Linked DNA regions of Homo sapiens. The protein of the gene in region 1 interacts with the protein of each later gene in a pairwise test. Each region holds a gene or a part of one and is shown in the gene's direction. Other genes may lie near its edges.

What was found.
Region 2: the proteins of CBY1 (region 1) and TTC23L interact in binary tests that used the Homo sapiens proteins (3 or more experiments, as listed by UniProt).
Region 3: the proteins of CBY1 (region 1) and FAM161B interact in binary tests that used the Homo sapiens proteins (3 or more experiments, as listed by UniProt).
Region 4: the proteins of CBY1 (region 1) and CFAP53 interact in binary tests that used the Homo sapiens proteins (3 or more experiments, as listed by UniProt).

Annotation. Positions count from the first base shown.
Region 1 is NC_000022.11:38,651,525-38,660,221, forward strand, and holds the start of CBY1 (protein chibby homolog 1), read left to right. Parts: upstream 1-5,113; 5' UTR 5,114-5,226; intron 5,227-8,697. UniProt on the Homo sapiens protein: Inhibits the Wnt/Wingless pathway by binding to CTNNB1/beta-catenin and inhibiting beta-catenin-mediated transcriptional activation through competition with TCF/LEF transcription factors.
Region 2 is NC_000005.10:34,855,170-34,863,163, forward strand, and holds part of TTC23L (tetratricopeptide repeat protein 23-like), read left to right. Parts: intron 1-7,728; coding exon 7,729-7,885; intron 7,886-7,994.
Region 3 is NC_000014.9:73,946,101-73,953,942, reverse strand, and holds the start of FAM161B (protein FAM161B), read left to right. Parts: upstream 1-3,850; 5' UTR 3,851-3,916; coding exon 3,917-3,970; exon of another isoform or gene 3,971-4,025; intron 4,026-7,337; coding exon 7,338-7,657; intron 7,658-7,842. Other genes in the region: COQ6 (ubiquinone biosynthesis monooxygenase COQ6, mitochondrial), read right to left, coding at 374-508, 3,448-3,610.
Region 4 is NC_000018.10:50,255,749-50,263,742, reverse strand, and holds part of CFAP53 (cilia- and flagella-associated protein 53), read left to right. Parts: intron 1-1,523; coding exon 1,524-1,753; intron 1,754-2,505; coding exon 2,506-2,679; intron 2,680-5,666; exon of another isoform or gene 5,667-5,838; intron 5,839-6,538; exon of another isoform or gene 6,539-7,978; intron 7,979-7,994. UniProt on the Homo sapiens protein: Microtubule inner protein (MIP) part of the dynein-decorated doublet microtubules (DMTs) in cilia axoneme, which is required for motile cilia beating.

The DNA of each region.
Region 1 (8,697 bases):
CTAATTTTTGTATTTTTAGTAGAGATGGGGTTTCACCATTTTGGCCAGGCTGGTCTCGAACTCCTGACCTCAGGTGATCCACCCACCTTGGCCTCTCAAAGTGCTGGGATTACAGGCGTGAACCACCACTCCCAGCCCCTTCTGAATATTTCATACCATTTTAGGTATTCTCTGAAACATGGTAAGTTTTTACTGCCATTACTTGGGGAGGATAAAAGGAGAGGGAAGAAAACTAGCTTCCTTAAATATCTACCCTGTGGCAAGCAATATGATGTGCTGGGGGCAGGGCAGAAGAGTGGAAGAGTAAGAAACCTTCTGCCCTCATGGAGCACACATTCTGGCAGTCAAGATTCAAATGCCCTGTTTAAAGTTAACATATTTGGGCTGGGCGTGGTGGGTCACGCCTGTAATCCCAGCACTTTGGGAGGCCGAGGCAGGCGAATCATGAGGTCAAGAGTTCGAGACCAGCCTGGCCAACGTGGTGAAACGCCATCTCTACTAAAATACAAAAATTAGCTGGGCATGGTGGCAGGCCCCTGTAATCCCAGCTACTAGGGAGGCTGAGGCAGGAGAATCGCTTGAACCTGGGAGGTGGAGGTTGCAGTGAGCTGAGATCATGCCACTGCATTCCAGCCTGAAAGACAGAGTAAGACCCTGTCTCAAAATAAATAAATAAAGTTAACATATTTGATGCTTCTCAGAAGAGGCGATATGAAAAAAAGAAAAATTAAAATAACAAAAAAGTTAATATATTTGAGCATATAAAAACAACGCTGACTTTAGGCCAGGCGCAGTGGCTCACACCTGTAATCCCAGCACTTTGGGAGGCCGAGGCAGGCAGATCATGAGGTCAGGAGATCGAGACCATCTGGCTAACATGGTGAAACCCCGTTTCTACTAAAAAATACAAAAAATTAGCCGGGCATGGTGGCGGGCACCTACAGTCCCAGCTACTTGGGAGACAGAGGCAGGAGAATGGCGTGAACCCAGGAGGCGGAGCTTGCAGTGAGCCGAGATCACGCCACTGCACTCCAGCCTGGGCGACAGAGCGAGACTCCATCTCAAGAAAAAAAAAAAAAAGGTCGGGCGTGGTGGCTTACGCCTATAATCCCAGCACTTTGGGAAGCCGAGGCAGGTGGATCACGAGGTCAGGAGATCGAGACCATTCTGGCTAACATGGTGAAACTCCGTCTCTACTAAAAATTAGCCTGGCGTGGTGGCGGGCTCCTGTAGTCCCAGCTACCAGGGAGGCTGAGGCAGGAGAATGGCGTGAACCTGGGAGGCGGGGCTTGCAGTGAGCCGAGATCACACCACTTCACTCCAGCCTGGGTGACAGAGCAAGACTCCATCTCAAAAAAAAAAAAAAAAAAAAATGCTGACTTTAGCATCTGACAGACTTTTTAGTATAACCCTCAGTCATACAATCAGGGGTCCCCAACCCCAGGGCCATGGATGGGTGTAGGTCTGTGGCCTGTTAGGAACCAGGCCACACAGCAGGAAGTGAGTGGCAGGTGAGTGAGAGAAGCTTGTCTGTATTTACAGCCACTCCCCATTCCTCACATGACTGCCTGAGCTCTGCCTTCTGTCAGATGAGCTTCAACATTAGATTCTCATAGGAGTGCAAACCCTATTATGAACTGTGCATGCAAGAGACCTAGGTTGTGTGCTCCTTATGAGAATCTAATGCCTGATGATCTGTCACTGTCTCTCAGCACTCCCAGATAGACTGTCTAGTTCCAGGAAAACAAGCTCAGGGCTCCCACTGATTCTACATTATGGTGAGTTGTAGAATTATTTTATTATATGTTACAATGTAATAACAGTAGAAATAAAGTGCACAATGAATGTAATGCTTTTTTTTTTTTTTTTGAGACAGAGTTTCACTCTTGTTGCCCAGGCTGGAATGCAATGGCACAATCTTGGCTCAGTGCAAACTCCGCCTCCTGGGTTCAAGTGATTCTCCTGCCTCGGCCTCTCAAGTAGCTGGGATTACAGGTGCACGCCACCATGCCTGGCTAATTTTTGTATTTTTAGTAGAGATGGGGTTTCACCATGTTGGTCAGGCTGGTCTCAAACTCCTGACCTCGTGATCTGCCTGTCTCAGCCTCCCAAAGTGCTGGGATTACAGGCATGAGCCACCGCACCCGGCCTGTAATGCTCTTGAATCATCCCAAAACCATCCCCCCCATCCCAGGTCTGTGTAAAAATTGTCTTCCATGAAACTGGTTCCTGAAGCCAAAAAGGTTGAGGACTGTGGATGAAATGATTATTTACTGAGTACCTACCATAAGCAAGCAGCATGCTCATACTCGGGACAGGAAAGTGAACTAAACCAGACTTGGTCCCTGCCCTCAAGGGGCTTACATCTACTGGAGGAGACAGGACAATGAGTCAATTACGTAAATCATAATTATGAGTTATAACTGTCATCACTACTTCAAAGGGAACAACACTGTAAGATGACATAATAGTGTGTTTTGACCATACAAGGAGATCAAGGTGCTAAAGGAGGAGCACAAGTTAATTAGATAAAGGGGAGCAGGGCCGGGCGCGGTGGCTCACACCTGTAATCCCACCACTTTAGGAGGCCGAGGCAGGCGGATGACGAGGTCAGGAGATCCAGACCATCCTGGCTAACACGGTGAAACCCCGTCTCCACTAAAAATACAAAAAACTAGCCGGGTGTGATGGCAGGCGCCTGTTGTCCCAGCTACTCTGGAGGCTGAGGCAGGAGAATTGCTTGAACCCAGGAGGCGGAGCTTGCAGTGAGCCGGATCGCGCCACTGCACTCCAGCCTGGGCAACAAGAGCAAAACTCGGTCTCAAAAAAAAAGAAAAAATGGGGAGCGGAAATAATATGCCATCCAAAATGTACCATCCAAGCAGCGGGAAGTGAGGCTGGAAAGGTAGGAAGTGCCCAGACTGTGCTGGCCATCAAAATAGCACTAGCTACATGTGACAATTAAGTCCTTGGAATTTGGTTAATGTGACTGAATAAGTAAAATTTTAAGGCTGAATGCAGTGGCTCATACCTGTAATCCCAATACTTTGGGAGGTGGGGATGATGTCACTGCACTCCAGCCTGGGTGACAGAATGAGACCCTGTCTCAAAAAAATAAACAAAAGGCTGGGCGCGGTGGCTCACGCCTGTAATCCCAGCACTTTGGGAGGCCGAGGCAGGCGGATCATGAGGTCAGGAGATCGAGACCACCCTGGCTAACATGGTGAAACCCCATCTCTACTAAAAATACCAAAAAAAAAAAAAAAAAAAAAAATTAGCTGGGCTTGGTGGCGGGCGCCTGTAATCCCAGCTATTCGAGAGGCTGAGGCAGGACAATGGCATGAACCCAGGAGGCGGAGCTTGCAGTGAGCTGAGATTGTACCACTGCACACTCCAGCCTAGGCGACAGTGCGAGACTCCATCTAAAATAAATAAATAAATAAATAAATAAATACCAAAAAAAAAATTAGCCTGGCATGGTGGCGGGCGCCTGTAGTCCCAGCTACTTGGGAGGCGGAGGCAGGAGAATGGCGTGAACCCAGGAGTCGGAGGTTGCAGTGAGCCAAGATCATGCCACTGCACTCCAGCCTGGGCGACAGAGCGAGACTCTGTCTCGAAAAAAAAAAAAAGTAAAATTTTTTTAAAGTAAAGCAATAAAAGAATGGCTACTCCATAGATAGAACAGCCAAGAGTAAAATTTTAATTTTAATTAATTCAAATTTTGGCCAGGCGCAGTGGCCCGCACCTGTAATACCAGCACTTTGGGAGGCCGAGTCAAGCAGATCACCTGAGGTCAGGAGTTCGAGACCAGCCTGGCCAACATGGTGAAACGCCATCTCTACTAAAAATACAAAAAATTAGCCGGGCATGGTGGTGGGTGCCTGTAATTCCAGCTACTTGGGAGGTGAACACAGCAGAATCGCTTGAACCCGGGAGGCCGAGATCATGCCACTGCAATCCCAGCCTGGGCAACAGAGTGAGACTCTGTCTTAAAAAAAAAAAAAATTAAATTTTTAAATGGAAGCAGTGCAAATTTAGAAATACTGATTATATCTTGAAATAGTAATGTTTTGGACATATGGAGTTTAAAACATTACTCAAATTAATTTCACTTGGCTTTCTTTTTTACTTTTTAAAAAATGTGGCTACTAGAAAATTCCAAATCACATATGTGGCCTGCTTTATGTTTCTATTGCACAATGCTAAGCCAGATTGTGAAGATTTTAGTTCTAGGACATGGAAGTCTCCCCTCTTTTAATGCAGGGTGGTGTAGTTGGAAGAGAACTGCGCTTGGAGTCAAAGACCCCTGGGTCCTGCCCCTCACTGGATGCCCTGATACACCCACTAGGCAGCCGGTAAACTCCTTGAACGGCCTAAGTTTCTGCACTTATCAGACGGAACCAATAACACACGCTTTTAGGACTCTAGGAGATCTGGAGTTGATTCTCCAGTAGTTCTCTGTCCCTTCCTCACAATGCAACCTTTAAGTAGTCCCTGGGCCTCAGCTTCCCTTGCTTGTAGAAGCCGCCATAACGGCACGGGGAGGGGGCAGGCTGCCAGAGGTGGGTCATGGTGCGTCTGTCCGTCCGTCTTACCTGAAAGCATCGGCGGAATTTGACGAACCCGGGGCCGGTCCCGCCACGGGTCCCTCAGGGGACCCCGCAAAGTTCTGGGTCGGCCCCCGACAGCCGGTGCCCCCAAACTCACAGCAAGGGGTGCCCTTTGCCTTGTGCTGGGGGATGAGGAGGGGAGTTGGGGAGAGGCCCATTTTGCTACTCTGAGTCCAGGCGTTCTCTAGGCAACGCCGGCGCGGTCTCCACTTTCCCGTTTAGCATAACAATGGAACCTTCGTGAGCCGCCGCGTTGTCCGCGAGATGCCGTTTCTATGGTGACAGCCGGGCCGGGGGCCCAGACCAATGTGTCAGTGGAGAGGGTGAATGCAGGTCCTGGTCCTAGAGGCATGAAAAGGACCCCAGAAGACACTGCCTTTGTATAATCCGTTTGCTATCCCGAGGTGATTCACGGAGTTTCTGGGGATTGGCGCAGGCTGGCGCTGGGAACCCCCGCGCCGGTTACCCCTTTCCTCGGTGGTAGAGGCCGGGCGGGGCAGCGCATGCGCGTGGCGGGCAGGCGGCAGGAGGCGGGTGGGTCAAGGTAACTCTGGGCTACAGAGTCCTTGCTGGGGGTTCGGGGAGCGCTTGGACCCCGGCTTCTGGGACGCGTCAGGTACGTCTCCGAGTCCGGCGTCGCCGGCCAGCGCTGCCTGGGTTCACTCGGGGGCCCGAGCTGAGTAGGACGTCCGGGCCTCGCCTGGAGAGAGGCTTCAGGAGGGCCTGGGGAAGGGGACGGAGGCCGGGCGACCCCGGGCGGTGGCCGCCCTCCTCTGTGTGTCTCCGCGGTTGTGAATTGGGGCGGTAATTCCTCCCCGTAGGTCGCCGTGAAGATGATTGCATGAGATCGTGCGTGTGAACGTTTGTTGACAGCTGTTACTTGAGTCCGACAGCCCTGGGGGCCGTGCATCTGCGTAACATGGCTACCTCTGAACTCCTTGGGGGACACGTATATCTTTGAGAATCCGATGAAAACCAGAGATTCCGCCCTTGTTTTCTTAGAATTAAAGTAAGATAATATATTTTATGGCCTGTTGCAAACGGAAAACCTTTACACAATGATTAGTGATTAGTATCAGTATCTGTGGACTGGGAAGGCTCTACTTACTCGATCCTCTTCCCAGGGTCGTTGTGAGGATCAAGTGCACAGCTTCCTATAAACACTAAAACACTATAACATCTTGTGAGCCAGGTACTATTATTATTCCTCAGTGCAAAGAAAGAAGCCGAAGTCCAAGGGGGATAAATGCTGGGGTCCCACTGTGGGTGAGCCGCAGAGTGATCATTGGAAGCCAGGTGCTCCCCCTTCACTTCCTGTGTGCGGAGCACGCTCGCCCTGGGAGTTTCACTAGAAAGAAGGTTGCCATGGGCCAGTGGGACAGCTTGTATCTCAAGTGCACGCGGATGCCCCAGAATCCCAGGATCTCAGCTGAGCTGTTTGTGGATTATTAGATCTGACTTAAAAGGTAGCTAATCCAGACCCTTCCTCATCTGTAATACATGGATGACAGCTCCCAGCTGTAGTGTTATGAGAATTAGTGCGGTCATGAGTAAGGTGCCCAGTTAAAGCCCGAGAAGTAAAGCAGCTGGGCCAAGGTCTAGCAGGCAACTGAAGGGGAGAGCCAGGCCCCTAAACTTGTTGTGTCCAGCCCATGTGCTCAGGCCCAGTGCAGTTAGCATCAGTGGGGACTTGACTTATTTCTCCTTCTTCAAATGTCTCTAGATTTTAGGCATGCTGGGGGCTGCTTCTTAACTGTGTTTTGTTTATTTTGTTCATAAGTAATACATGAATATATTCTCATTGTAATAATTCATTAAATCTCGAGTATATTTAATATAATTTTATATTGTACCATATGAAATTGTCACAATTTGACCTTTTTTTAACCTATAAAATGACAAGTTCATTCAAGTCAGTCATCCTATTCCCTTTTTCAGGTTTAACCACTATGAACAGTTTGGTGTATCCTTCCAGATCTCTTTCTTTCTTTTCTATTTTTTTTTTCTTTGAGATGGGGTCTTGTTCTGTCACCCAGGCTAGAAAGCAGTGGTGCAATTTCAGCTCACTGCAACCTCTGCCTCCTGGGTTCAAGCAATTATCCTGCCTCAGCCTCCTGAGTATCTGGGACAACTGGCGCACACCACCACACCCGACTAATTTTTGTATTTTTAGTAGAAACAGGGTTTCACCATGTTGGCCAGGATAGTCTCGATCTCTTGACCTCGTGATCTGCCCAACTCGGCCTCCCAAAGTGCTGGGATTACAGGCATAAGCCACCGTACCTGGCCTCTTTCTTTTTTTTAATACACACATATATTACTTTATTTTATTTTATTTTTTTTTGAGATGGAGTCTGACTCTGTTGCCCAGGCTGGAGTGCAGTGGTGCGATCTCGGCTCACTGCAAGCTCTGCCTCCTGGGTTCACACCATTGTCCTGCCTCAGCCTTCTGAGTAGCTGGGACTACGAATAGATGGGACTACAGGCTCCTGCCACCATGCCAGGCTAATTTTTTGTATTTTTAGTAGAGACGGGGTTTCACTGTGTTAGCCAGAGTGGTCTCCATCTCCTGACCTCGTGATCCGCCCGCCTCGGCCTCCCAAAGTGCTGGGATGACAGGCGTGAGCCACCACGCCCGGCCTATTCTTTTATTTTCACTTTGTCTTATCATATGGGGGAAATACCATACACATCATTCTGCAACCTGCTTTCGCAGTGTTAAAGCATGTCAGAAGTCTTTCAGGTTAGTTCATATACAGCTATCTCACTGTCTTTAATTGCTATTTACAATTTTATTTTTATTTTTATTTTTATTTTTTGAGATATAGTCTCACTTTGTTGTCCAGGCTGGAGTGCAGTGGCGCAATTTCTGCTCACTGCAACCTCTGCCTCCTGGGTTCAAGCAATTCGCATGCCTCAGCCTCCTGAGTAGCTGAGATTACAGGCGCACGCCAACATACTGGGCTAATTTTTGTATTTTTAGTAGAAATGCGGTTTTGCCATGTTGGCCAGGCTGGTCTCGAACTCCTGGCGTCAAGTGATCTGCCTGCCTTGGCCTCCCAAAGTGCTGGGATTACAGGTGTGAGCCACTGTACCTGGCCTACAATTGGTTTTTTTTGTTTGTTTGTTTTTTGTTTTTTTTTGAGACAGAGTCTTGCTCCGTCGCCCAGGCTAGAATACAGTGGCACAATCTCAGCTCACTGCAACCTCTGCCTGCTGGGTTCAAGCCTCAGCCTTCTGAGTAGCTGGGATTACAGGCGTGTGCCACCACACCTGGCTAATTTTTGTATTTTTTAGTAGTGACAGGGTTTCATCATGTTGGCCAGGCTGGTCTCAAACTCCTGACCTCAAGTGATCCACCTGCCTCAGCCTCCGAAAGTGCTGAGATTATAGGCATGAGCCACCGTGCCCGGCTTAGGCCCACAATTTTATTATAAGAATGTGCTGGCCGGGCACGGTGGCTCACACCTGTCGTCCCAGCACTTTGGGAGGCCAAGGCGGGCAGATCACAAGGTCAGGAGATCGAGACCATCCTGGCTAACACGGTGAAACCCCATCTCTACTAAAAATACAAAAAATTGCCCAGGTGTGGTGGCAGGCGCCTGTAGTCCCAGCTACTCGGGAGGCTGAGGCGGGAGAATGGTGTGAACCTGGGAGGCGGAGCTTGCAGTGAGCCGACATCGCACCACTGCACTCCAGCCCGGGCGACAGAGTGAGACTCTGTCTCAAAAAAAAAAAAAAAAAAAAAGAATGTGCCACAAATTATTTGGCTACACCCAAATTGTTTGGATTGTTTCTTATTTTTTACTGTTATCAACAATAGAGAACATTGGGTGTGAGCATGTCCAAGTCTTTCTGGAGTGTAAAATTTTAGAAGTAGAGTTGCTGTCCAAAAAGTGTACACATTGACAATTTTGCCAAGTTTTGAGTGCCCTTGAAAGAATTATAGCATCTTCTGATTCCACCAGTAATAACAGTGTCTTTTTCTTCACATCCTCATCAACCATGGGTATTATTCATCTTTTTAATTTTTGCCAATATGATGAGTGAAAATGCATTTTTTTAACTTTTTTTTTTTGAGATGGAG
Region 2 (7,994 bases), on another chromosome or scaffold:
GGGCAGGCTAAGGTTAGGACTGGTAAGATGAACCTGGAAAGGAGAAGGGTACATTGGGCAGGCTAAGGTTAGGACTGGTAAGATAAACCTGGAAAGGAGAAGGGTACATTGGGCAGGCCATGGTGTGGTTTTAAATACAGGCTAAGGAATTTGTAATTTATTTGATAGGCAAAGAGCACTAGTGGAGATTTTCCAGCAGGATGATAAAAATATCAAAGTGTACTTTTGGCAGGGTTAATCTAGCAGTGATGGAATGGAAGCCATCTCAGTCATCTAGGTCTAAAACTAGGCTGCCAGAGAGAATGGGTGAGAAGGTAAGGATTCAAGAGTCTACGAACGACAGATACACTTATTTTTAAACCAGAAACCCACTTCTGGGAATCTTTCCTAAATACACACTGATAACATGGACAAGATTATTCTTTGCAGCATCATTCATGATAGGAAAAGATTGGAAACAAGCAAGTATCCATCAATAGGAAACTAGTACATACACACAGTGGGATATATGGAGTTTTAAAAAGAACATGAGGAATCTCTATATCCTTCTAGGGAAAGATCTCTTTAGGGAAAAGAGAATGCACAATGCAGTATGGTGTTTATAATACGCCTCTTTTTGTGTAAGAGGGAGTAAGAAATGAGAATGTAGGCTTATTTTTATATAAAAAACACCAAAGGGTACACAAGAATGAAACAAAAAAAGTTACTTAGAGGGTGGTTGGGGACAAAGGGAACAAGATTGGAAGTGAGACCTCTCAGTGTTTACTTTTTCTTATAATTTTTAACTTTTCAACGATAGAAATGTGTTACCTATTCAAAAATGATTATTAAAAGACAGAGACCATTAAGAAGGAGTAGGCAGGACATGGTGTTCGATTTGGGGTTGAGTGACAGTGAGGCCCAAAGATGACCATGATGTTTTGGGCCCCTGAAATTGCCATTTTCAGAGAGAAGTAGGTCAGAAAGGAAGTGGACTGGGAGAGGAATGCTGAGTCCAGTTTTTGATGTATAGATTTTGAATTGCAATAGAGAATCCACAAGTTGAGAATCGCTAATCTGAAAATCTGAAATCCAAAATGTTCCAAAATCTAAAACTTTTTGAATGCTGATGTGACGCTTAAAGGAAATGCTCACTGGAACATTTTGGATTTCAGATTTTCAGATTTCAGAGATGTTCAACTGGTTATCTGCAAATAATCCAAAAACCTCCCCCCATCCAGAACAAAATCTGAAATCTGAAACACTTCTGGTCCCAAGCATTTTGGATAAGGGATACTCAACCTGTAATACATTTTCACTTGTGCTGGAAATTTGGGACCAGAACTTGGGAGGAGAGAAGGAAAGGCATAAGCATGGAGGAATGTTTGAGACCAGAACTAAAGAGGGGAAATGGTAAATTATAAGCATGGAAGCCAAGGTTGAAGTAATAGGAGTTGATAAAACTTCCAAGAGGGAAAGAGAGAAGTGGAAGAAACAGAAAGATTTGGAAAATGGACACATTAATGGTAGAGAACAAAGGACCTTGATAAAGAGTTAGCAAAGAATCAATTACAGAAGGTTTATAAAGGAGAAGCAGGTTGGTGCAGTGCCTTGGGAGCCAAACAGGTAAGGGTATCTGATGCTGCAGTGAAATGCGGACTGAAAAACTGCAGTTGGATTCATTTATTAGGATGTTTTTGAGGGGACCTCAGAAGAACAGTTTCCCCATAGTGGTTGGAGGAGAAGCCAGATCCCAGGGATGAAGGGAAGCAATAGGGACCGGAGGCTAGTGAAGATGATTTTACAAGAGAAGGAGATGCAGGAAGATTTTAGGCAAAGAGGAAGGAGCCAGTTAGAAGAGAGGGTTTAAAGATGTTTTTAATGGAGTAATTGATGGAATGGGATTCACAAGAGAATGTGAGGCTTTTGCAAAGCAGAGTGTATAAAAGTTGGTTCGCTTGTTAAACAGAACAAGTGACACTAGAAGTGGACCTCTATGGCCCACTGCCCTGGTGATGATCCTAATGAGCCTAGTGATCCAGCAGCTGAGAAAGGGCAGTCGGAGATCACCATGGTAGTTTGGTAACTAGTGGTGAACTGTTTTCAAGTGTTCAGGAAGGAAAATATGGTAACGTGGACAAGCAGTTTTCTGAAATTCTGCTTATTAATGAAACAGTACTTTAGTCAGCCTATTATTACTGGGAATCTTCCAGGTACTGGGGCTCTGTTACAAATGTTGCAAAATCCAGAAAAAGAAGCCTAAGTCATGCTTTCTTTGTCTAGTTGGTTAAAACAAAGACACAAAAACTGGTACAGAAACAACAGGGAATGATAAAAACCGGGTAATCTGACCCACAAGAAGCCTGATACCTACCTGAAGTGAGTCTGCATTTGAGAATGCAAGCCTTTTACAAAGATTCTGTAAACAGTGCTATGAAAAATGTTGAAAATAAGTACAAATATAGTAAATTACTCAATAAGAGAAATGGACCTTGGTAATAATAATAATAATGGCTAATATATCTTCAAACTCACTTCATTCAGGTACTATTTAATCCTTTTTTTATATTAAATTAATCCTTGCGACAACTCTACAGGATATATTTTCATTACCATTTTGTAGGTGAATAAACAGGCACAGATAAAGTAACTTTTTCAAGTCATAAGGATGTTCAAGTCATAATGACTAAACAAGGATTTATACCTGGAAAGTCTGGCTCTAGACCCTGCTCTTTTAATTACCGTGCCACAGTAACTGCTTAAATATAGATGCTGATCAAAGGTGACTGCTTTCTGGTGACAATAACAACCTCCAAAGATTGGGTAGCTCTGAGCAGATTTTCTCTGGCCTGAGTCAGTGTAGCAGAATCGATGATAGAATCCCAACCCAAACTAAAGCAAAATGATTGATATGTTTGTTGGACAATCTTTGGACTCATTTTGCCATCTCATCAATATTTCCTTGTAATTTCTGAATCTTGGGCTCCAGAAGCAGGCCTTGCTGCCCCTCTGCCTTGTACCTTGAAAACTGCTGCACTGTCAGTGCAGGTAGAAGGGTGGTATCCTTGGCTTGGGAGGGCAGATACAGAAAAGTAACTTGATCTATGAAGCATCCTTCATAGATATATACAATAATAAATCTTATATACAGAGAGTTTTTACATGAAAGAGGACGTACTTAGACTTAGTAAATGTAAATTCATTTCAAAGTGTTGCTGATACTGAATTCATAGTACTTTTGTCATTATGAATTTTTTCAAGTAGTATGTGCTATGAAAATAATTATCACAAGTGGAGGAAGCCTTGTGGTTTTTTTAAAATATAAAAAGAGCTCTTTCATACTTGAAAAGGTTGGAAAACATTTGTCTAGGCCAGTGGTCTCCAAACTCAAGAGACAGCTCCCTTATCACTAAAAGAAACTTAAGCAAACAATCAATTACTTTTTATACATGTATTTTAAATAGATTGTGTACAACAGTATTGATGTGTTATGTAATATTATAAATAGTAATAAAAATAGAAAAAGGCTTCAGATAAAAAAAAAATAGAGAAGTTTTGATTTCCCCCTCACACTCTTACGGCATCTTGCATACCTGTAGAGTTCATGCACTCCACTTTGGAGATCAGAGAGGATTCTGGGAAGGTGAAAGAAGTTTTTTCCCTTTAGGGCTTAAAATATAATAAATTGTTTTAAATCAAGATCCTTGTTCAGTTTGCTTAAGCCCCTTGTGGCTCAGCTTTTCCATCAGAAGGCCCACAATGTGGGGCCTAGTCGTGTGAAAGCAAGGAACTCTATGATTGATTAGCTGCTGAGCAGAGAGGAAAAGTATTCCTCCTGGGAATTGCACAACCAGCATGGGATATTTTGCAGGGAGGGTGCAGGCTTTCAAAAGCCTCAGGGACTGCCTCAGAACAACTTTCTTGAGTGGTAGTTGTTTTATTTGACATTCACAAGCCCAGAAGGAGTGTCCGCTCATTTGGGGTGGTTTTTAGTAGCTCCTGCAGTTTCACCTTTCTTCTTCCTAAGGACCCAGGGAACTGTCTGAATTTGGTTTTTATAGTCCTTAATGACACACTCCTAACGGCCCACCTACTTGTGGAAAATGACCTGCTTGATCAAAACACTTTCTCAGTTTTCTACTTTGTTTTCTTGGTCTAAAGTAGCCATCTCGGCTTCCAGTATCCGAAGCAGAGTTTTCTGTGACCTAACTAGTGATGCTGCCTTCTTCCTCCAGACCTGTGAAGACTCCCTGTTACATAACAGATCTAATTCCCCCTCCTCATCTGGGCATCTGCTATGGTTCGAGCATGTCCACTCCAAAGTTCAGGTGTTGCCACTGTGATAGCATCAAGAGGTGGGGCCTTTCAGAGGTGATTAGGCTATGAGGGCCCCTCCCTCATGAATGGGATTAAGGCCGTTATAAAAGAGGCTTTTTGTGGTGTTTGGTTCTTTTTCTCTTCCGTTTTTCATCATATGTGGATGCAGCAAGAGGTCCCTCACAAGAAGCTGGCGTCTTCATCTTAGACTTTTCAGCCTCCAGAACTGTGAGAAATTTCTGTTCTTTATAAATTACCTGGTCTCAGGTATTTTATACCTGACATACAAATTAAGACATCATCCAAGATTTTTTACATATTCAATGCATAGCTTATACGTTTTTCTTTTTTTTCTTTTCTTTTCTTTTCTTCTTCTTTTTTTTTTTTTTTTTTTTTGAGACGGAATCTCACTCTGTTGTCCAGGCTGGAGTGCAGTAGCGTGATCTCGGCTCACTGCAAGCTCTGCCACCCAGGTTCATGCCATTTTCCTGCCTCAACCTCCAGAGTAGCTGGGACTACAGGCGCCCGCCACCACGCCTGGCTAATTTTTTGTATTTTTTTTTAGTAGAGACAGGGTTTCACTGTGTTAGCCAGGATGGTCTTGATCTCCTGACCTCGTGATCCGCCCGCCTCGGCCTCCCAAAGTGCTGGGATTACAGGCGTGAGCCACTGTGCCCGGGCTGCTTATACGTTTTTCAATTCAGAGTTTCCCTTCAGTCATCTTTCTACCTTCCCTAACCATCCTGTATCCACCCAACCTCATCCCCCAGTGCAGCACACATACATACACACACTTGCTTGTTCTGTCTTCAAGGCCTCAAGCTATTTAATCCAAGGGGAAATCCCTCCTTGTATCAGTCAAAATCCTATCCACTCTTGAAAAACAAGATGAGTCCTACTTCTTCGATAAAGATTTTACTAACTATGTATTTCTCCAAGTGTGGTCCTCAGACAACCTTGCATTATTACCAAGATTAGTTCTTACAAATGGGAATCCTTGGTTACCACCTGAAACATGGTTGCTTGTTTTAAATGTGTATTCTTGGTTCTTATTCCAGAACTTGTGAGCTGTAACTACTGGAAGTGTGGGACAGGAATCTGCATTTTAATAGGGTGCTTATAATGCACAGTGCAATTTGAAGGCCACCCTTAACTTAGGACACAGCCCTCTCCAGAGTCCATTTTTCTCTTTAGTTGAAACCTATGGAACAGATATTTCTGAGTATTCTGCAGAGACTTCTTGTCTCTGGATCACTTTTATTTATTTTTATTTTTGCAGTTTTTAATGAAAGGTGTATATAGGGATACTTTCCCCCTACATCTTCTCGAATGTTTCTTCCTCATATCTACTATTTTTCTTTCCTACTAGGTGAGATTTGGCTTTCTGCTCAAGGATCTTTTTCTGTTCTTTTCCAGTTTTAGCCTAGTGATAGCTGCCTTGTTGGGGTCAATGCCCACATGGATAGTTGTGCCGTTAGCCTTTTCCCACTGCACCCTGTCAGTATAGATGCCCTTTTTTTTTTGAAACAGTCTCACTCTGTCGCCAGGCTGGAGTGCAGTGGTGCGATCTCAGCTCACTGCAGCCTCTGCCTCCCAGGTTCAAGTGATTCCCCTGCCTCAGCCTCTCTAGTAGCTGGGACTTCAGGTGCACACCACCATGCCCAACTAATTTTTGTATTTTTAGTAGAGATGGGGTTTCACCATGTTGGCCAGGGTAGTCTCAATCTCCTGACCTTGTGATTCGCCCACCTTGGCCTCCCAAAGTGCTGGGATTACAGGCGTGAGCCACCACGCCCAGCCAGATGCTGTATTTCTTCTGGTAAACCTGGATTACTTTGCCAGTTTGCTGACCTTTATAGTGTCCTTGCACAATCTGAACTTCATCATCCTATTTGGGGGGCATGGATCAAGCATTGTACTTTTGTCTCAGCTCTTTGGAAAGAGGGAAGACATAATCTTGTGAATTTGGAAAGGTGCATTTGAAATGCTTTTTTATGGTTCTTGCTTTGGTCAGAAGTCACAAAAGAACTGAACTTTATTTTGACGACTGCTGCTTATATAATGGTTGCAAAAGGGAGAAGGGACCTGGGTCACCTTTAGAACTCTCCCAGGGAAGACCATGTTCCCTTTCATTGCTATAACTCATTCAGGAGGTGCACTTAGAACACATGAGGGCTGCAGGTATCAAAGACAAACTTTTAAATTTATCCTTATTGCCATTGACTTGCACCCATTCTGTGAAACTAGGCTTCAGGAGCCAAAGGCAGCTTGCTGAGTAGGACTGGGGCTGGTGGTGTGAAGTGAGGATTAGGGGCACAGTGGCCTACTTGGCAGGGGTGAATGTGTTTACCAGCCCCTAGGTACCTGCAGAGAGAGGGCTGAAAGTGAACCCTACCTGTTGTTTTCAGTCTTCCCAAGTCTACCTCTGTTGACTGGACAAATAGCAGCTTGAGTAAGTGCCCAGGAACACCAGCAAAAAACAAGGGGACAAATGAGATGTGGCTGGAAAGGGGGATGCCCTTTCACCCTTCATGCAATGCATATTTGAGGGGAACCTGGTGCTAAATCATTAGATAACCTGCTTCTGGGTTAGGGTTTTGTATGTAGCAGAGCAGCTCCCTCACTGCAGTCTATGGAAAGTCAGCCCTGGACACAGGTTTGTATTTTTAAATCTTTAAAAAGAAAAGAAAAGAAAAAACAAGGGGAAAAACCCCACCAGTTCTGTCTAGCTGGGGTCTGGCCTTGCCTTTGTCTTCTTAGTTTGGGGCCTCCCTGCATTTAGCAATTGCTTTCTTTTTATGTGTGTTGTGTGACCAGTTAGTATCACCAGATTCATCTTAGATTGAAAAAAAAAATCCCCAGATGGAAGTAATTGCATTCATAAGCCCTTGTATTTATAGAATGCCTTTTCCAGAACACTCAATGCACAGCATTCTATGGCATAACCTACTTTGGTCCTGGACTATCTCTGTGTGTTTGGTAAGGGTCAGCTTCTATAATTATTATTGTTGTTCAACAGTTGGAGGATGGAGAAGCGTTGTGGGTTGAAAAGGTCACATGGCATTAGTAGTAGAATCAGGAATAGGATACTCACCTTCCATTCCTGTCTCTGTCTTGAGTTCCAAACTGAGGTACGAAGGCTAATGTTGAGAGGGCTGAATAAGAACCACTTGTGGTGCAGATTAAAATTAGAGATTCCTGGACCCCAATTCTCTAGAGATTCCCCACTCAGTAGGTCTTGAGTGGGGCCCAGGAACCTGTATTCTTTACAAGCATTTCCAATAATTCTGATTCACAGCCAGATTTAGGAACCAATGCTATAGACCATACGACAACTGCACTGCCCACTTTATCCCCTCCCAGGAATGTTTTTGACTGAAGCATGCCTTTTTAATGTCTGTCTTCTTGCTCCTCACCCTCTAACTCCCCCAGGCCTCCCAGTTCAGGCCAAGAAACATGCTACATCAGCCAAGAATACACTGTTGACCTGGAAGGCAAATACGACCTCAAATAAGGAGAAAGAGGAAATCCTGGAAGCTCTGGTCAAGCTGTACTACACTCTGGGCGTGGCCTGGCTCCTGCAGAACCGATATCCTTCCATTCCTAGCTGCGTTTAGTGTTCGGGGCCACAGGCCACACATGCCAGATGGGTCATCTCATACAGGAGGGTGGGAGATGGAACCAAGGCCTTGTAGATC
Region 3 (7,842 bases), on another chromosome or scaffold:
GTGTAAGCTCCCTAGCTTGCTAGAAGGCTTGACTCAGGATGAAGAGAGCCCTGCTATTCAAAGTGAATGTTCATGATTAGTTCATATGATTTCAGTTCCACCAATTCATAATGACACAACATCACAAGTGAAGTCAACATGATGGACCCACATGCCTCAAGGATGCATTCCTCAGACAGGGAGTTGAGGCAGTAGCAACTGCAGGGGTCCACATCTTCAACTCTGCCCTAGACTACCAATCCCACCCCCTCTCTCCACCCACCTCAGTGAGCTCCCTCCTTGTCAGATGCTCTGATGACTCTGCCCCATGGGATACACTAGAAAGCTAAGTGGGAAAGGAGATTGGATCTTTGAAGGAGGATCTTCTACTCACTACTGAGAAGCGTTGCAGAGCCAGGGGAAATGGAGCTGACCCTGTTGCTGTAAGTTTCTGACAATTTCTCCAGTACTTTCTTTGGACCTGCTTCGAGCAACAGGATTTTCTTGTCATGAAAGTGAATATCATATCCTTAAAAAAAGAAAATTTATATCATCTTAGGAAAATCAAGAATTTCCTTTCCCATTACCAAGAGAAACAACAGAGTAACCACTTAACCCTTAGAATATGAATTTCTTACAGAGAACATAAACACTATACCCATGCAGAGTCCTAAGCAATAACATATACCACCATTTTAGCTATGAGAACCACCCTGCCCACAACTGTAAGACTTCTCCAAAGACCACTACATGCCACGTGCCAAGAAGCAAATAATGGCAAACACCTAACTAGCAAACAGAATGCCCTAGAAAGGAAAAATGAAGTAAAAAAGTTAGACTACAGTATTTAAACACCAGTTCTTTTCAATCTCCAGAGTATTAAGTCACTAAAAATTACAACTCCTGTTCAAAAGAAAAAGTGGAATAAACAAGCAAAATTCAATGCAGTCTCAAGATTAAACCAAGAATAAAGAATTAGAGTTTATAAAGGCCGGTGCGGTGGCTCACACCTGTAATCCCAGCACTTTGAAGGCCGAGGTGGACAGATCACCTGAGGTCAGGAGTTCAAGACCAGCCTAGCCAACATGGTGAAACCCGTCTCTACTAAAAATACAAAAAAATTAGCCAGGTGTGATGGCGGGCACCTGTAATCCCAGCTACTTGGGAGGCTGAGGCAGGAGAATCGCTTGATCCTGGGAGGAGGAGATTGCACCACTGCACTCCAGCCAGGGCAACAAGAGCAAAATTCTGTCTCAAAAAGAAAGAATTAGAGTTTATAAAAGAAAACGTGAGCCAGGCATGGTGGCTAACGCCTGTAATCTCAGCATTTTGGGAGGCCGAGGTGGGAGGATTGCTCAAGCCTAGGAATTCAAGACCAGCCTGGGCAACATGGCGAGACCCTGTCTCTACAAAAAAAAATTTTTTTTAACTAGCCAGGCATGGTGGCACACCTGAGCTATGTTTGTGCAACTGCAGTCCTACCTGGGGGACAGAGCAAAACCCTGTCTCAAAAACTACAAAAAAGAAAAGAAAAGAAAGAAAGGTCAGGCACAGTGGGTCACACCTATAATCCCAGCACTTTGGGAGACTGAGGTGATGGATCAGTTGAGCTCAGGAGTTCAAGACCAGCGTGGGCAACATGGTGAAACCCCATCTCTACTAAAAACACAAAAATTAGCCAGGTGTGATGGCGGGCGCCTGTGGTCCCAGCTCCTCAGAAGGCTGAGGCAGGAGAATCACTGGAACCTGGGAGGCAGAGGTTGCAGTGAGCTGGGATCCTGCCACTGCACTCCAGCCTGGGTGACAGAGCAGAGACTCTGTCTCAAAAAAAAAAAAAAAAAAAAAAAAAGTTAGCTCCAGCCATACAGACAGTGAGCGGTCCATCTTGGCAGCTTTTGCTGTGGAGGATGGGGCACAGGGACATGCTCTGTAGAGCATGCTCTGTAAAGGGCACTATCTTCTTTTTTTTTTTTTTTTTTTTTTGAGATATCGAGTTTCGCTCTTGTTGCCCAGGCTGGAGTGCAGTGGCGCGATCTCAGCTCACTGCAACCTCCCCCTTCCAGTTTCAAGCGATTCTCCTGCCTCAGCCTCCCAAGCAGCCATGAGAACCACCCTGTTACAGAAGTCTATGATCTGCTTTAAGTTAAATTTTGTGTATCTTGTGAGATGAGGATCATAGGGTGGAACAGCTGCCCTTAGATCAGGGTGTCCAATCTTTTGGCTTCCCCAGGCCACAGTGGAAGAATTGTCTTGGGTCACATATAAAAAAACACTAATATTAATGATAGCTGATGAGCTAAAAAAAAAAAAAAAATCACAAAAAAAAAATCTCATAATGGGCCAAGCATGGTGATTCATGCCTGTAATCCCAGCACTTTGGGAGGAAGGGGCAGGTGGATCACGAGATCAGGAGTTCGAGACCAGCCTGGCCAATATGGTGAAACCCCGTCTCTACTAAAAATACAAAAATTAGCCAGGCATGGTGGCACAAGCCTGTAATCCCAGAGGTTGCAGTGAGCTGAGATCGTGCCATTGTACTCCATCCTGGGCAACAAGAGCGAAACTCCATCTCAGGGAAAAAAAAAAAAGTGAAAAGACTACAAAATGGAAGAAAATATTTGCAAGTCATTTATCAGATAAGGGACTTATACAGAATAAACAAAATAATGGCCAGGCAGGGTTGCTTATGCCGGTAATCCCAGCACTTTGGGAGGCTGAGGCAGGTGGATTGCTTGAGCCCAGAAGTTCCAGACCAGCCTGGGCAACATAGTGAGACCTCGTCTCTACAAAAAAATACAAAAATCAGCCGAGTGGTGGCGCATTCCTGCAGTCCCAGCTATTTGGGAGGCAGAGGCAGGAGGATCAATTCAGCCAGGGAGGTTGAGGCTACAGTGAGCCGTGATCGTGCCACTGCACTGCAGCCTGGGCACAGCGGAAGACCCTGTCTCAAAAAATAAAAATAACTCTTACCACAGTATTCAAGAGACAAACTGCTCAATTAAAAACCGGGCAAAGGGTCTGAATAGGCATTTCTCTAAAGAAGATATACAAATGACCAATAAACATATGAAAGGATATTCAACATCATTAATCATTAGGGAAATACAAGTCAAAACCTGGAGATCCCACTTTACTTACACCCACTAGAATGTCTATAAACAAAAAGACAATGACAAGTACTGTCCAGGATCTGGAGAAACTGGAACTCTCATTTATAAATAACCCCGGGAAGGCCTGTTTTCCCATGAGTAGAACAGACTCTGAACGCCCCTCCCACTTTTGACCCTAATGGACCCTGAAGGACCACACGCATTCCGGCGTGCCCTGGGGTTCCTCTAGGAGGGGAGGGGAGAAGCGTCGCGAGACCTGAGAAATTGTCTTTGGGCAAGTCGTGCTAGGGCTCTCACGGCTCTCATCGTGCCTCCGCGGCCCGGTTTCCGGCCACTAGTAGCCTGGAGAAGGGCTTACCCAAGGCACAGGCCATGGCAGCGCCCACCAGGCCTCCACCCGACACCACCACGTCATACACGGTGTCTGTTGAGGCGCCGGACCACCTGCGCCAGGACACCAGCGGGCCGCTGTGGGGAGCTGCACGCACAGCCCCGCATCGGCTGACAAGCCGGGCCGCCATGGTGCAGACCTGCGCCGTCGCACTCAGAACTCCCGCAGGCCCACCTACGTAGTGCGTCCGGAGCAGAGCACTCCAATCCCGTCCCGCTTCCGCGGCGTCCTCAGAACCGGAAATAAAATGCGCGGAGAAAATAGGCCAATCGGAAAACGAACCTTGCCTCCTCGGGCGGGATGGATCGGAGGCTGCCCTGGAAGCCAACCAGACGCCAAAGCTAGAAAGGGGTGGACCCTGGCCCCGCATAGCTCTCGCTGCCACCGCTGCTGCCACTATCGCTGTCACTGTCGCTGCTGCCTCTGTCCAGCTGAAATGACCGTGGGGAGGCCTGAGGGAGCCCCCGGAGGCGCGGAGGGGAGCCGTCAGGTGAGGAGAGAAAAGAGACTGCCCCCGGGAAAGGAATCCCGGAGAGGAAACTGTTGGGCGTTGCCTTGGAGACAGACAGCAGGGGCGTGTCACGGAGGGGCGTGGGATTAAAATGAGCGTTTAGGGACCAGGAGGCGGACTCTGACTTACAGACCTGAACCTCTCGGACTTTATACGAGGCTCTTGATAGGCAATGTCACTCAGTTTTCGCTTATCCTCTTAGTACTCTATGACCAGTAGTACAATTGTCGTCTCATTTTTGTAGAAGAGAAAACTGAGGCACAAAGAGATTAAGAAAATTGCTCCCCAAATTTGGCCGGGCGTGGTGGTTCACGCCTGTAATCCTAGCACTTTGGGAGGCCGAGGCGGGTGGATCACCTGAGGTCAGGAGTTCGAGACCAGCCTGGCCAACATGGTGAAACTCCGTCTAAAAATTTAAAAAAAAAAAAAAAATTGGCCAGGCGCGCTGGCTCACGCCTGTAATCCCAGCACTTTGGGAGGCCAAGGAAAGCGGATCATGAGGTCAAGAGATCGAGACCAGGCTGGTTTCCATGGCAAAACCCCGTCTCTACTAAAAATACAAAAATTGGCCGGGTGCGGTGGCTTACTCCTGTAATGCAGCACTTTGGGACCTGAGGTCAGGAGTTCAAGACCAGCCTGACCAACATGGAGAAACCCTGTCTCTACTAAAAAAAATACAAAATTAGCTGGACGTGGTGGCACATGCCTGTAATCCCAGCTACTCGGGAGGCTGAGGCAAGAGAATTGCTTGAACCTGGGAGGTGGAGGTTGCAGTGAGCCGAGATTGTGCCATTGCACTCCAGCCTGGGCAACAAGAGCAAAACTCTCTCAAAAACAAAAACAAACAAACAAAAAAATACAAAAAATTATCTGGGCATGGTGGTGCGCGCCTGTAGTCCTAGCTACTCGGGAGGCTGAGGCAGGAGAATCACTTGAACCCGGGAGGTGGAGGTTGCAGTGAGCCAAGATTGCACCACTGCACTCTAGCCTGGCGACAGAGCGAGACTCCGTCTCAAAAAAAAAAAAAAATTAGCCAGGTGTGGTGGCGCGTGCCTCCAGTGATCCACCAGCCAAGGCCTCCCAAAGTGCTGGGATTACAGGCGTGAGCCAGTGCACCTGGTGGACCCCAAACTATTAAAGGCAAAAAGTAGATTGGCAGTTGCTTAGGGCTGGTGGGGTGGGGTGTGGAGGGTTAGGGGAAATAGGGAGTGACCACTAAAGCGTGTGGCATTTCTTTTAAGGGCGATGAAGGTGTTCTAAAATTGTGATGGTAGTTGCACAACTCTGTGTATATACTAAAACCACTGAATTGTACACTTTAAATGAGTGAATATATTGTATAGAAATTATGTCTTAATAAAGTTGTCTTTAAAAGAAAAGAAAAAACGTGCCCAAGATCACACACTGTAGCAGAGCCAGGGCTAGGGTGCATACATATCTCTGACTCTTACCCTGGATTTTAGTAAGCCTGGCTCCTCATCAATCAAGTGTCAATTCAAAATTCCTCCACAATGAAAAATAAAAATCAGCCCAGGACTGAGAAAGTATAACTCAGACTGTCATAGGCATAGATAATGCCAACGGCAAGAGCATCAGGAAACAGTGTTTCTCTCAGGGCCATAACATAGGTGCAAAATTACTAACACCCCTTCTTCCAAAAGGCTTACTGATCAATTACTTACCCACCCTACTTTATTCTTCTCACCTTTTGAATAAGTATTGCCGTTGGGCGGGGCCCAATGGCTCACGCCTGTAATCCCAGCACTTTGGGAGGCCAAGGCAGGCGGATCATTTGAGCTCAGGAGTTGGAGACCAGCCTGGGAAGCATGGTGAAACCCCATCTGTACAAAAAATACAAAAACTAGCCAGGTGTGATGGTGTGTGCTGTAGTCCCAGCTACTCGGGAGGCTGAGGTGGGAGGATCATCACCTGAGCTCAGGAGGTTCAGGCTGCAGTGAGGCATGATTGCACCACTGCACTCCAGAACCTGGGTGACAGAGCAAGAACCTGTCTCAAAAAAAAAAAATTGCTCAGTCATTCGCTTAACTAAATTGTCCCCACTTCATGACAGCACCATTCCAGAGTTGATACCTGGTTCCCTGAATCAATCAGGGAAGCCAACCCTATAAAAATCACACCCTCAACCCTAAGTTCCCTGTGGTTTTCCGTAGTGTCCTGCAGCAAGTTAATAAGCCTAACTGATGTACTGATTACAAGTACATTCCTAATAACCTTAATCTGATGGACTTTATCAACCAAAAAGCTTTCCATAGGCACTCCATCTTTTTATAACCTCACAGTTGTTTATGGTTTTCACAGAATTTATCATCATCTTATATTGTCTGTCTCCTCTTACTACAGTGTAAGCTTCATGAGAGTAAGGACCTTGTTTGTCTTGTTCTCAGCCAAATGCCCAGTGCACATCAGGCACCCAGTAAATATTTTATGAATGAATGGAGTACTGAAAAAGTTAATTGTGTGTCCCACTTCTTAAGACATTGCTCTTCCAGCCAGACCATACTGTCTGTCTTGTTAATCATCCATTCCTTTTTTTTTTTTTTTTTTTGAGACGGAGCATCACTCTTGTTGCCCAGGCTGGAGTGCAGTGGCGCAATCTCATCTCACTGCCACCTCCGCCTCCCGGGTTCAAGCGATTCTCCTGCCTCAGCCTCCCCAGTAGCTGAGATTACAGGCACCCGCCACCACGCCCAACTAATTTTTGTATTTTTGTAGAGACGGGATTTCACCATGTTGGTCAAGCTGGTCTTGAACTCCTGACCTCAGGTGATCCACCTCCCTCGGCCTCCCAAAATGCTGGGATTACAGGCATGAGCCACTGCACCCAGCCATCATCCATTCCTTGACAGAGTGCAAATTAGCTAGAACATGAGGAAAGCAGAGGAGTAGAAATAAGGGAAGGGAGAGAAGGAAGATGAGCAAGAAGTAGGTTAAAACCCAAGTAAGGGAGAGTGTGGCCATCATCATGGGCAGGATTCCTGGAGTGCAGGGGTCAGAAAGCCTGGTGTAGGTGAGGTACTCTGTAAAAGCTTACTGCACTGTATGGCATAGGGAACCAACTTCAGCTCTTCACTTCCCTCTCCATCCCTTCAACCAAGCGCACTTCATAGACCAAGTTGTGAAATTTCTTTAGACCAAGAAACACACCTTATTTTTAAAAATTCCTCCCAAAGTGTTGGGATTACAGGTGTGAGCCAGTGCATCTGGCAGACCCCAAATTCTCCCCAGTCCCTAATATACAGAAGCTTATTCAAAGCGAAATTAAGTTATGATTTGAATACCTTTGAAATTATTGTTTGACCCACAGCCTATTTCTATTCTATTTTAGATATTTCCCCCCGAGTCCTTCGCAGACACAGAGGCAGGAGAGGAGCTGTCCGGGGATGGGCTGGTTTTGCCCAGGGCCAGCAAACTTGACGAGTTCCTCAGCCCAGAGGAGGAGATAGATTCTACTTCTGACTCAACTGGGAGCATTTACCAGAACTTACAGGAACTGAAGCAGAAAGGGAGATGGTGTCTGTTGGAGTCTCTCTTTCAGTCTGACCCAGAGAGTGATGAAAACCTCTCTGAAGATGAGGAGGACCTGGAGAGTTTCTTCCAAGACAAGGACAGGGGGATGGTGCAGGTCCAGTGCCCGCAGGCTCTGAGGTAAGGCACTGCAGCTCCACGGCTGCCTCACTCCACACCTCCACACAGGTCACATCGTGTCTCTGGGCTTCATCTTCCTCTGTAAAGCAAAGAGCACTTCTGCAAGTTGCCATTTACTGAGGCTCTAGCTGAGAATCAGCTTTTGGTTCCAAACAGGTGTTCTGATTCCTCCCCAGGAATCCTGA
Region 4 (7,994 bases), on another chromosome or scaffold:
TGTTTCATTCCTGTTCTCAGCTCACACTGGGACCCTTAATTCCTGCTGTGTATGCTGCCAAGGGTGCCACTGTGATCCTCCTCTGCTTTATTTTCACAGATCTATATTCATAAAATGCCAACTGTATTGGAGAACAGTCATCTAATTAGCTGGCTCTAGGCTCCAGATAATTATGACATGGATTAGCTACTTTCCATGATATAACCCCCAGCATCATCTTCTGTCTCCTTACCACCCCAGGCTTGCCTTATCTTGTTCAGCTAAATCTAGGTACCTATATGTGTACCCTGAGCCCTGAATCTTTTCATTAAACTGTCTTCAAATGTTGATTTTCTTTCCTCAGGAGACTTCATTACAAACACCTAACCCTAGTATTCTGGTAATCCTGATGGTGATATTCTAAATGTAAAAGATCAGATTGACTCTCTGTCTCTTAAGAGTTTTGTTTCTGTGAATCAGCACCCCAGTATCTCACAACTTACCTAAGGATGACTTGATAAAACTGTTCCTGAAAATACAAAGCTCAAGACTATGGATTTTATGGTGGCTCCAGGAGGTGCAGAAATTGCATCAAGCCCACCCAGCAACATTGTTTCATTCATTCACTCATTCATTCATTCATTTCTATTGAGGACCTCACTGTAGTAGGCATTATGTTCAATGCTAGGAATACAGAAAGGAAAAAGATATAGGCTATGTGATTTCATTAAGTGTATCTATATATATTCAAATGGTACATGCATTTCTAACTTTTTTAGTGGACATTTCTGTAAAAACAGTACATTTATAGAAATTCAAAGTAGCCCAAAAGGTCAGGAACACACTCTTTGCATTAAAACTTCTGGGCACCATAGAAATAGGAATAAAGTTCTACCACCAGCTTTTTTTCTTTTCCCTCCTCTCTTCCTCCCTCACTTCATTTCTTCCTTCTTAGTCAAAGATCTTTCATTATCACAACTCGTTATATATCCATATACATATACACATATATATACACACACACATATACATGTATATACACACATGTATATTTTTTCTATATATTCGCATAGTAGCACCTTTTCATTGAAAGTATTTTGATGTGATAACTATGGTGTCCAACCGTGAGAAATAATGTGGAATAATGAGTGGCAATGTCAAGGTCGGGAATTAGAAGACCTCTAATTCTTGTTTTATCTGCCCTATTTGAAGCAAGTTCAGCAAATCACTTAATGTCTCTGGGTTTGACTAGACAATCTCAACAGAGTCCTGTTCACATTTTTAACTTTGTAATTTCCATCAACTATTTTTCAAATGGCACATTAGAAATATTTGAGACTGTTTTGATGACATCTTAGGTATAGGCTCAGAGAATGAAACAAGTTACTCTTTAGGTGCATAAGCTGTATTCAGTTGTAGTAGGATGTATTAGTTTTTTATACCCAATTTTATTTAGTATGAGTATTGATTGAGAGCATAACTAATTGAAAATATGCAGTTGATTCTTTGGCTTATTATAAGTGATAGTTGGTTTTTGTTTTCAGAGATCCAAGCCTCCTAAAGGCCAAGGAGCTGAGCACCATCTAGAAAGAATCCGACGCAGCCATCAGAAGCATAATGCTATTTTGGCTTCCATTAAGTCAAGTGAGCGGGATCGCTTGAAAGCTGAGTGGGACCAGCACAATGACTGCAAGATTTTGGACAGCCTTGTGCGAGCAAGAATCAAGGATGCTGTGCAAGGGTTTATCATTAACATTGAAGAAAGACGAAATAAGTAAGGCTCACAAACCTGGGACATAAACCATGAAATATTCCTAAAACCACAATTTGAGATTGACCAGTCAAAAATCAAATTTAGCAAGGATCATGGCTGAGATGTTTATATTAAATCCATAGCTATTGCTGGTTAATATTTTTAATATTTTTATTTGTGATAGCCTGTATTTTGATGAAAAACAATATATTGTTTCATATTTCATTATTTTGATTGAAACCTGTTCATTTTACTCTTTTGTTAAAAATATATATTTCGTATCTTATTTGTATGTGATCAAATAAAATATGGTGCAGTTGGTTGGGCTTAGTGGGTCATACCTATAATCCTACCACTTTGGGAGGCTGAGGTGGGAGGATTGTTTGAGCCCAGGAGTTTGAGACCAGCCTGGGCAACACAGTGAGACCCCATCTCTACAAAAAATAAAAAAACAGCTGGGCATAGGGGCACCTGCCTGTAGTCCCAGCTGTTCAAGGAGGCTGAGGTGGGAGGATCACCTGAGCCCAGGAGGTCAAGGCTGCAGTGAGCCATGATCACACTGCACTCCAGCCTGGGTGACAGAGCGAGATCCTGTCTCAAAACAAAAACAAAAACAAAAACAAAAAAACAAACCAACCAGTCTTATTCTGTGGAAGACTGCAGTGATCTTTCTTTTCTTACAAATTAGACCTATAGTTCTGAAATTGAATATAACGATGCATGTAGCATGACAGTTTTCTTTTTTTTTTTTTTTTTTTGGCTTTTTGTTTCAGGCTACGTGAGCTTTTAGCATTAGAAGAAAATGAGTATTTTACAGAAATGCAATTGAAGAAAGAAACCATTGAGGAGAAAAAAGATAGGATGAGAGAGAAAACTAAATTACTAAAAGAGAAGAATGAAAAAGAGAGGCAGGATTTTGTGGCTGAAAAGCTAGACCAGCAATTCAGGTAATGAAATCAGAAAACACACAAACAGAATCCAAAGTTGGTACATTAAAATAGATTTAAGAATGCTAATTTAAAGTAAATTAGTCTTAAGAGGATATACAGAGTAGTTGTAACTTTAAGTCTTGGCAATATATTACATATCATTGAATAATACAGTGTGTGCTTGAGAACTATGTTCTAATGTTCTGTGCTTGCTTCTCAATTAGAATGGAAGTAACAAAGGAGATTATGTTACTGAACTTTAGGTATTAACCTCACCCTTGCTGTTGGCAGGAAGTTCTTCAAAAGCCCCTGTGCCAAGGAATCTTTGGTAAAGTTGGGCTTTCCCCCTGCTGCTGTAGTCTCTACCTGTGCTGCATGTGTGCTTGGGTTCCCTGGGGGGTTTTTCGGTTGTCATTTTTTGAGACAGGGTCTTGCTCTGTCATCCAGGCTGGAGTGCAGTGGCATGATCATGACTACAACCTCCACCTCCTGAGCCCAAAGTGATCCTCCCACCTCAGCCTCTCAAGTAGCTGAGACTATAGGCACGCGCCACTGTGCCCAGCTAATTTTTTTGTATTTTTTGTAGAGATGGGGGTTTCGTCATGTTGCGCAGGGTGGTTTTGAACTCTTGGACTCAAGTGATCCACTCACCTCAGCTACCCAAAGTATTAGGATTACAGGCATGAGCCACCATGCCCGGCCCTCTCTACTCTCTTCTTTATTGTCTGTTTCCTTGCCTGGTATTCTGATCACTGGGGTCTGATCACCTGGACTTATAAGGCACTTCCTGACCCAGACCCATGGTGACCCTCGGTTTTCAGACCCCTGGTCTTTACTGTACTCAATCTACTCAATCTGGTACTGTGGTTGCCTCTGTATCCCTTTTCATTGTGGTTTTCCATCGTAGGATACTCTGAGTCTGTGCCCTGATAGACTACCCACTACTGTGCACTTACACAGAGGGAAGATTTGTATGGGAGTACCCAAGAGTGATCCTCTGGAGATGATCTATAGTGTTATATAATCAGAAGCTTGGCAGATGCTTTTAGTTTCACAAACCAAGACATTCCTTACCTCTAAAGCAAAAATATACTAAATAGTCTCCCTCCCTAGAGCTACAGCTCTTAGAACAAGAGCTATTATATATTTATAATGTTACTATAATTCCTCAGTTATATTTTCAGTGCTTCTGATACTTCTAAGAGTGTAAACATTAAGAATTGCTGTTATTTGGCTGGGCACAGTGGCTCACACCTATAATCCCAGCACTTTGATCACTTGAGGCCAGGAGTTTGAGACCAGCCTGGGCAACATAGTGGGACCTTATTTCCACAAAAAATAAAAAAATTGGCCGGGCGCAGTGGCTCATGTCTGTAATTCCAGCACTTTGGGAGGCTGAGGTGGGTGTATTACCTGAGGTCAGGAGTTCAAGACTGGTCTGGCCAACATGGTGAAACCCAACTCTACTAAAAATACAAAAATTAGCCGGGCATGGTGGCACACGCCTGTAATTATTGACTATAGTCATCCTGTTGTGCTATCAAATAGTAGGTCTTATTCATTCATTCTTTTTTTTTTTTTTGGTACCCATTAACTGTCCCCACCTCCACCCCCAACCCCCCACTATCCTTCCCAGCCTCTGGTAACCATCCTTCTCTATCTCCATGAGTTCAATTGTTTTGATTTTTAGATCCCACAAACTAGTGAGAACATGCAATGTTTGTCTTTCTGTGCCTGGCTTATTTCACTTAACATAATGACCTCCAGTTCCATCCATAGTGTTATAAATGACTGGATTTCATTCTTTGTTATAGCTGAATAATACTCCATTGTGCATGTGTACCACATTTTCTTTATCCATTCATCTGTTGATGGACACTTAGGTTGCTTCCAAATCTTAGCTGTTGTAAACAGCACTACAACAAACATAGGAGTTTAGCTATCTCTTCAATATACTGATTTCCTTTCTTTTGGGCCTATACTCAGCAGTGGGATTGCTGGATCTTATGGTAGCTCTATTTTTAGTTTTTTGAGGAACCTCCAAACTGTTCTCCATAGTGGTTGTATTACATTCCCACAAACAGTGTACAAGGGTTCCCTTTTCTCTGCATCCTCACCAAGATTTGTTATTGCCTGTCTTTTAGATATAAGCAATTTTAACTGGGGTGAAATGATATCTCACTGTAGTTTTGATCTGCATTTCTCTGATGATCTGTGATGTTGGGCACCTTTTCATATGCCTGTTTGCCATTTGTATGTGTTCTTTTGAGAAATGTCTGTTGAAATCTTTTGTCCATTTTTTGATTGGAATATTGGATTTTTTTCTTATGGAGTTGTTTGAGCTCCTTATATATTCTGGTTATTAATCTCTTTTCAGAGGGATAGTTTGCAAATATTTTCTCCCATTCTGTGGGTTGTCTCTTCACTTTGTTGATTGTATCTTTTGCTGTGCAGAAGCTTTTTAACTTGATATGATCCCATTTGTCCATTTTTGCTTTGGTTGCCCGTGCTTATAGGGTATTGCTCAAGAAATCTTTGCCCAGTCCAATGTCCTAGAGATTTTTCCCCAATGTTTCTTGTAGTAGTTTCATAGTTTGAGGTCTTAGATTTAAGTCTTGGATCTATTTTGATTTGATTTTTGCATATGATGAAAGATAGGGTCTATTTTCATTCTTTTGCATATGGATATCCAGTTTTCCCAGCATCATATATTGAAGAGACTGTCTTTTCCCCAGTGCATGTTCTTGGCTCCTTTGTCAAAAACGAGTTCACTGTAAGTGTGTAGATTTGTTTCTGGGTTCTCTATTCTTTTTCATTGGTTTATGTGTCTGTTTTTATGCCAGTACCATGCTGTTTGAGGTACTATAGCTCTGTAGTATAATTCGAAGTTAGGTAATGTGATTCCTCCAGATTTGTTATTTTTGCTTAGAATAGCTTTGGCTATTCTGAATCTTTTGTGGTTCCATACAAATTTTAGGATTGTTTTTTCTTTTCTTTTCTTATTTTCTTTTATTTCATTTTATTTTGAGACAGGGTCTCACTCAGTTGTCCAGCCTGGAGTGTATGTTGCCCAAGGTGGAATGCAGTTACAGGATCTCAGCTCCCCGCAACCTCTGCCTCCCAGGTTAGGTTCAAGCAGTTCTCCTGCCTCAGCCTCCCAAGTAGCTGGGACCACAGGTGTGTACTGCCACCCTCAGCTAATTTTTGTATTTTTAATAGAGACGGGGTTTCCCTATGTTGCCCAGGCTGGTGTCGAACTCCTAGTCTCAAGTGATCCACCCACCTTGGCCTCCCAAAGTTCTGGGATTATAGGCATGAGCAACTGTTTTTTCTGTTTCTGTGAAGAATGTTATTGGTATTTTCATAGGGATTGCGTTTTGTCTGTAGATTGCTTTGGGTAGTATAGAAGTTTTAATAATATTGATTCTTCCAATCCAAGAACATGGAATATGTTTCAATTTTTTGATGTCCTCTTCAATTTCTTTCATCAGTGTTTTATGGTTTTCATTGTAGAGATCTTTCACTTCTTTGGTTAATTCCTAGGTAATTTTATTTATGGCTATTGTAAATGGGATAACTTTTTAAATTTCTTTTTCACGTTGTTCAGTGTAAGCATATAGAAATGCTATTGGTTTTTGTATGTTGATTTTGTATCCTGCAACTTTACTGAATTTGTTTTGCAGTTCTAAGACTTTTCTTGTGGAGTCTAGATTTTTCCAAATATAAGATCGTGTCATCTGCAAACAAGGATAATTTGACTTCTTACTTTGAAATTTGGATGCCCATTATATCTTTCTCTTGCCTGATTGCTCTAGCTAGGACTTCCAGTGCTATGTTGAATAATAGTAGTGATGGTGCATTTTGCCCCTTTTTTCAGATACATCTCTCAGTGCAGTGATGATCACATGAATGACCCATGGAATGCCCTAAATCATCGATTTCATCTGTCTTTTAATTTTAGAGTAACTGGCTAAAGTTTTTGTATTCAGAAGGGATTTTTACAGTCCAAAATATTACCTGGAAGTGTTTAAAACATAGCCATTAGCATTCATTCATTCAGTAAGTATTTTTGGGCTCCTACTTCATGCCAGGCTCTGTGAGAGTGAGTGTCACTTAGGTTGTTAGGTCATCTAGTATGAGTGGGGCAAGGTGTGTATCATGTTAAGCCAGATTCAGGAATGGATGATCCAAAAATACCTGAGTTTAAATCTGGTGGAATACAGAAGGAATACAAGAGTTCATTTTTCATAGCACTCAAAATTTGAGTAGACCAGAAATCCAAAGGTCAACAGATGTGAAAAAGCAGCAAAATGACATCTGTGGAGGGATCAAGACATGGTGCAGAGAAAAGCTTCTTCCATCTGCTCTTTCTGTCATGAATTCGCTATTAATAATATGGACAGCCCTAAACCCTCAACCCTCTTACTAGAGGCCAAAAGGAGAAGTAAGCCATTGCAGTGAGTAGTAGATAAAAGTTGCAGATGCAGCTGCTAAAAGTAAATTCCCTCTCAAAAGGAGAGGGAATGGGAAGTTTCAGGGCTTGGGGAGCTGCTGAAGGAGGGCAGTGAAGAAACCCGGAGTAGTAACGCACAGGGCCAGACGCGACTTGCCACCCTCCTTGGCTTGTAGATGGATAACTGAGTTCTACAGGTAGGGATTTGTCTAGGTCTTAAGCTTGAGGTAACCAAAAGAGGATTAGACTTGGATTTTCAAGCCTGTGTAAAGCATGCACTCATACCCTGTCCTCAGTGGGATTTGGACATCTTTGCTACTGGTTGCTGGGGGGAAAAGATGCTGTGGGTGGAAAATGGTATATTAGCCAAGTGACTCTCAATGGACCATTCATATATTTTCTACTCCCTAGTAAATTTATCTTAACATATTAAGAAAACAAAATGGTTCGTAAGTGGTTGTGCTTTTAAAATTTATGGATTTAGCAACATTTTACAGATTTCACTTGTATGACTGAGTTTTTGCTAGTTAGATGAATTGTTAAAAATCTTAAAGAAACGAATGTATCCTATAGTAATATAATTTGAAAACAAATTGTTTTTAGTGTTTTGAATGAAGCACTGCCAACTCCTCAGCATAGATCCTCAGACATACTTTTGAGTAAGGATGCGTTATTAGACCCTATTACTGAAAATATAGTTGAGGCTTTAATATGTATATTAATATAAAGCAGAATGAAAATTTTCCTCTTTTTTTTTTTGTATTCCATTGTATAAATATACCACAATTTATTTCTTCTCCTGGTGACAGTCATTTCAGTTATTTTCAGTTTGGGACTCTTATGAATAAATCTACGATGAATAGACATGTCCTTTGATGGC